Regions from separate parts of the Homo sapiens genome. Here region 2 is linked to region 1. A link means that fine-mapping ties the variant in region 1 to the expression of a gene that starts in the linked region. Tissue or cell type: whole blood. Region 1 holds a variant in brackets; the other region holds the start of a gene. All regions are shown on one strand. Distances are from middle to middle.

Region 1 (2,905 bases):
AATCCCAGCACTTTGAGAGGTCGAGGCGGGCGGATCACAAGGTCAGGAGTCCGAGACCATCCTGGCTAACAAGGTGAAACCCCGTCTCTACTAAAAATACAAAAATTAGCTGGACATGGTGGCGGGCGCCTGTAGTCCCAGCTACTCGGGAGGCTGAGGCAGGAGAATTGTGTGAACCCGGGAGGCAGAGCTTTCAGTGAGCCAAGATTGTGCCACTGCACTCCAGCCTGGGCAACAGAGCGAGACTCCATCTCAAAAAGAAAAAAAAAAAACAAAAACCTGTGTAGATATTCTGCCCTTAAGGAGGTAGAACATAATTCCCCAATTCTTAAATGTGGGCTGCACACAGTGACTTCCTTCCAAAGGGTCCAGTACAGAAAGAAGAAAAAAGAGTAACTTTACAATGGAGAAGTCTGGCAAAGTTTACCTCAGTCAGGTGATCAAAGTCAGCATGAACCCTTCATAAGATGTGGCAAGAATGGCACCTGACCTCTGGTCTTCCTCTCCAAAACCCAGAACCTCAGTCTAATCATGAGGAAACATCAGACAAATCCTGATAGAGGGGGATTCTACCATATGCCTACCCGGTACTCCCCAAAACTGTAAGGTCATCAAAAACAGGGAAGGTCTGAGAAACTATCACATCCAAGAGTCAGGATGATTGTGAAATGGGATTCTGAGGGGAAAAGGACATTAGGGGGAAACTGAGTAAATCTGAATAAAGTATGGAGTTTAGTTAATAATGATTCATTGTGACAAATGTACCATACTAAGGTGTTAATAATAGGGGAGACCACACCTGTAATCCCAGCCCTTTGGGAGGCTAAGGTAGGAGGATCACGTAAGTTTGAGACCAGCCTGGGCAACAATAGTGAGACCTTGTCTCTATGAAAAATTAAAAACTTAGGCCGGGCATAGTGGCTCACTCCTGTAATCCCAGCACTTTGGGAGGCCGAGGCGGGCGGATCGCGAGGTCAGGAGATCGAGACCATCCTGGCTAACATGGTGAAACCCCGTCTCTACTAAAAATACAAAAAGTTAGCTGGGCGTGATGGTGGGCGCCTGTAGTCCCAGCTACTCGGGAGGCTGAGGCAGGAGAATGGCGTGAACCCGGGAGGTGGAGCTGGCAGTGAGCCAAGATCGCACCACTGTACTTCAGCCTGGGTGACAGAGCGAGACTCCGTCTCAAAAAAAAAAAAAAAAAAAAAGAAAAGAAAAATGTAAAAATTAGCCAGCCATAGTGGTGCTGCCTGTAGTCCCAGCTACTTGGGAGGTTGAGGCAGGAGGATTGCTTGAGCCCTGAAGGT[C/T]GAGGCTGCAGTGAGCTATGACTGGGCCACTGCACTCCAGCCTGAGTGACAGAGAGAGACCCTGTCTCAAAAAAATTGCTGGGCATGGTGGCTCATGCCTGTAATCCCAGCACTTTGGGAGGCTGAGGTGGGGGGATCACCTGAAGTCAGGAGTTTCAGACCAGCCTGGCCAACATGGTAAAACCTCGTCTCTACTAAAAATAAAAAAATTAGGCTGGGCACGGTAGCTCATGTCTGTAATCCCGGCATTTTGGGAGGCCGAGGCGGGTGGATCACCTGAGGTCAGGAGTTCAAGCCCCGCCTGGCCAACATGGTGAAACCCTGTCTCTACAAAAAATACAAAAATTAGCTGGGCGTGGTGGCAGGCGCCTGTAATTCCAACTACTTGGGAGGCTGAGGCAGGAGAATCACTTGAACCCAGGAAGCAGAGGTTGCAGTGAGCCGAGATCACACCATTGCACTGCAGCCTGGGCGACAAGAGTGAAACTGCATGTCAAAAAAAAAAAAAAATGAGCTGGTGTGGTGGCGTGTGCCTGTAATCCCCAGCTTCCGGAGGCTGAGGCAGGAGAATCTTTTTTTTTTTGAGACGGAGTCTTGCTCTGTCGCCCAGCGCCCAGGCTGGAGTACAGTGGCGTGATCTCGGCTCACTGCAACCTCTGCCTCCTGGGTTCAAGCAATTATCCTGCCTCAGCCTCCTGAGTACCTGGGATTACAGGTGCGTGCCACTACGCCCCGCTAATTTTTGTATTTTTAATAGAGACGGGGTTTCACCATGTTGGCCAGGCTGGTCTCGAACTCCTGACCTCATGATCCGCCCACCTCGGCCTCCCAAAGTGCTGGGATTACAGGTGTGAGCCACCGCGCCCAGCCGGCAGGAAAATCTCTTGAACCTGGGAGGTGGAGGTTGCAGTGAGCGGAGATTGCGCCAGCCTGGGCGACAGCGAGACTCCAGCTCAAAAATAAATAAATAAAATAATATTAACTGGGAAACTGGGTGTGGGGTATGTGGGAACTCTCTGTACTATCTTTGCAATAAATAAATCTATAAATTTAGAAGTCTAAGGCCGGGCATGGTGGCTCACGCCTGTAATCCCAGCACTTTGGGAGGCCAAGCGGGGTGGATCATGAGGTCAGGAGATTGAGAATATCCTGGCTAACACGGTGAAACCCCGTCTCTACTAAAAAAAAAAAAAAAAAAAAAAAATCAGCCGGGCGTGGTGGCAGGAGCCTGTAGTCCCAGCTACTTGGGAGGCTGAGGCAGAAGAAAGGCATGAACCCGGGAGACGGAGCTTGCAGTGAGCCGAGATAGCGCCACTGTACTCCAGCCTGGGTGACAGAGCGAGACTCCGTCTCAAAAAAAAAATTTTAGAAGTCTAAAAGTATATAAAAAAGAAAAAAAAAGAGAAAAAGAGTTGCCTGAGCCCTTTTGTGGCCACACAGCACTGGCAGGGCAGTTAGGCAGGAGCAGCAGGGGGTGGAAAAGAAAGGGAGGCAGAAGAAGCAGGAGATGCTTTATTTCAGAACAAGGTACAATAGGCCACACCTCTGTCCTGCACCTGGGAACCTTGGGCATGGATGAGCAGAGCAACCACAGGTCT
Region 2 (2,905 bases), 23 kb before region 1:
AATATTTTACTGTGGGGCCCCCCTGGAAGCACTGTTTAGCCATCCCTGCCAGATTGTCTCATTTGAGCCTATTTCATTCCTGGTCACAGATCCAGGCTGCCAGATGTCAAGAGCCAAAGAAAACTGACCTACCATCAAAAGCAGAGTCAGACAAATCTAAAACGATAACTCTGTAGGGACCGCGGGCAGATACTATGCAGCAGACATTATGTGCCGCCTCTGAAACTTCTGGCAAGCCCTGGGGAGCAACTTGGGACAGACACCAGAAGCACCACCTTCCTGGGTCACCATGGGCCCACTCCTGCAATGACCACTCCCCAAGTGGAGTGATTTGAAAAAGATTCCATAACAGCTCTCACAATCCATATCTCAGTCTCTCTTCTTTCACTGTGAAGGTTCTGCTGCTGCAGTTTCTTAGAAAGGCAGGAAGGGTCCCTGCTTGCTCCTTGGAGTACCTACTATTTCCCTTGGAGAATCTGCTGCTTTCACAGCTGTCCCTGGGCAAATCCAGTCTGGTGATTACCATTATCAGACTATTCTCACAGCACCTATAAAACTTCATTATACTTATGTACCTGTCCATCTTTCTATTAGACTCCTGGTAGACAAGGATCGTATGTATTTCTCTTGGTACTGAAGTGTCCAATATAATGCCCCAGTAGTTGCTCAAAGAATTATCTGTGGAACACATCAACATCCTTATTTAATATACCGGCCCTGGAGTTAGAAAAACAACTAATTATAACCCCAGTCTTGCGTCTTACTAGCTATAACACCTCAGACAACTTTCTCAGAGCCTCAGCTTTCTCATCAGTAAAATGGGGTTAAAAACAGTACCTACCTCATGAGGTTGTTTTGAAGATGACGTGAAATCATCGAAGCAAAATACTTGGCACAGTGCCTGGCACACTGCAAATTGCAATTGCTTAATAACGGTAGTAATTATTTATCACAACCACAACTAACCCCTGATGGTAAGAAGGTTAATGTTATTAACCATGATTTACAGGAAAAGAAACTGCGGCAAAGAAAGACGAAAACGATTGGCACAGACACAGGGAACTCTCGTGGGGAGGGGCCCGGCAGGACCCCAGGTGTCCGGCCTCAGGGGTCTTTGCTCTGTCCCTCAGCCTGTGATCTACCCTGTCCGTACCGTGACCGCACGGTGAGGAGGGGTCCCGCACCCTTTTTCTGAGGCGAAGGTTCCGCTTTTGGATGGTCCTATTCCCTCGGCGTTGGACTGGGGTCCATGGGCCCACCCGAACCGAAGGGCTGCCTGGCCCCAGCCTCCGTGATAAGACCAGTTGTCCCGGCCAGTGAGGAGTAGGGTCGGCTAAGGGGGTCACAAACCGTCCACACCCCTCAAACTTCGGGGCGGGGCTGGGGAACTGGGGGCGGGGCTTCAGGACGCGAGGAGTCATGGGAAATTAAAGGGGGATTGGACCGGCACTGTGCCTGGATGGGGAAGTCCTCACCTGAAAAGACCAGACTAAATGTTTTGACCTCGCCAGGACGGCCCCTGGACTCGTCTTTCCGTAGGGGTCGGGAAAAGGGCTGGCAATCTGCGATTCTGTTCAGGGTCCGGTCTCTTCCGGCTTCTCCCGGAAGCTGTTATACCAGGGACAGGAAGTCCCGCCTCCGCGCCTTGCACTGATGACGCGAAGCTGCGTAAGACGGGCTGACGTAAAAGGTATTCTTTAAATAAAAGGGACAGGTTTCTCAGCGGAAGGAGGGGTGGAGTCATTGTTGGCGGGATTGCGGCCCTCCCAGAGCGGGGCCACGCCTGGTGGGCGGGGCCTTAGGCAATCCAGGGTGAGAGGCGGGGCCAGGGGGGAGGAGTTAGCGCGGAGGTACTTGGGAAAGGGGCGTGGCTTCGCGACTGCGGAAGGTTGCCCGGGCTGGCGCCGCTGGGCAGAGCCGGTGCGACGTTTCCCTTTCCAGCTTTGTTCTTCCGGCCCTGCTGTCTGCCTCCCCGGCTGATTGGATTCGTTACTGCTTTGCAACGCGCACCTAACTCCAGGTTAGCGGGGATTAGTAAGAACTCAGCTCTGGGCCAGTCGGGAAGACAGATAAGGAGACCAGTTAGTCAGCATCCAGTGCTTGAAGAGTGCGGCCCCAGGTAGTGTGGGACCCGGAGAAAGAAGGCGGGAAAGCATTTCAAAGAAGGCACAGATTCGGCGCAGGCTTAGGACACAAAAAGGGGGAAAAGTCCAGCTTTCAAGAACTTATCCAGATTTTTGCAGTTAAAATTTTTTCTTTTTTGAGACGGGAGTTCCGCTCTTGTTGCCCAGGCTGGAGTGCAATGGCGCGATCTCGGCTCACTGCAACCTCCGCCCCCCCGGGTTCAAGCGATTCTTTTGCCTCAGCCTGCCGAGTAGCTGGGATTACAGGCATGCGCCACCACGCCCCGCTAATTTTGTATTTTAGTAGAGACAGGGTTTCTCCATGTTGGTCAGGCTGGTCTCGAACTCCCGACCTCAGGTGATCCGCCCCCGTCTCGGCCTCCCAAAGTGCTGGCATTACAGGCGTGAGCTACCGCGCTCGGCCGCAATTAAAATTTTTTCTAAAAACTTACTGTGGCCGGGGGGAGTGGCTTACTCTTGTAATCCCACCGCTTTGGGAGGCAGAGGTGGGAGGATCGCTTGAGCTCAGGAGTTCGAGGCTGCAGTGAGCTATGATCTGAGCCACTGCATTGCACCCGACAGGGAGGCCTTGTCTCCAAAAAAAAAAAAAAAAGCGCTGGAGTTTGGGGTTTTGGAGAACTACTGATTAAAGGATAAATAATCCAGACAGGGGCAAACATAAGCAAAAAGCTCGGTGGCTTCTACCAACTGAACACTGGCAGAAGTAGCACTTAGATCAAGAAATAGATAATTAGGACTGGCGCGGTGGCTCACGCCTGTAA

Evidence for each region. PIP is the estimated chance that this variant, and not a neighbour inherited with it, causes the effect. A credible set is the group of variants that fine-mapping cannot tell apart.
Region 2: it holds the start of TMUB2, and the variant in region 1 is the best candidate, but not a certain one, in a credible set for the expression of TMUB2 in whole blood (TOPMed, PIP 0.56).

The regions. Positions count from the first base shown.
Region 1 is chr17:44,162,377-44,165,281 of GRCh38, reverse strand. It overlaps HROB (homologous recombination factor with OB-fold), which reads right to left. Exons shown (of 10, transcript NM_001171251.3): 10 at 2,806-2,905. Among named protein-coding and RNA genes, the nearest start is that of ASB16, 6.9 kb to the left of the region's middle. The variant C/T (reference allele first, on the strand shown) is at 1,308.
Region 2 is chr17:44,185,680-44,188,584 of GRCh38, reverse strand. It overlaps TMUB2 (transmembrane and ubiquitin like domain containing 2), which reads right to left and starts at 1,613. Exons shown (of 4, transcript NM_001076674.3): 1 at 1,476-1,613; 2 at 842-909. The coding sequence starts at 876. ASB16-AS1 (ASB16 antisense RNA 1) reads left to right here and starts at 1,868. Exons shown (of 3, transcript NR_049730.1): 1 at 1,868-2,020. RefSeq lists an enhancer at 1,755-2,289.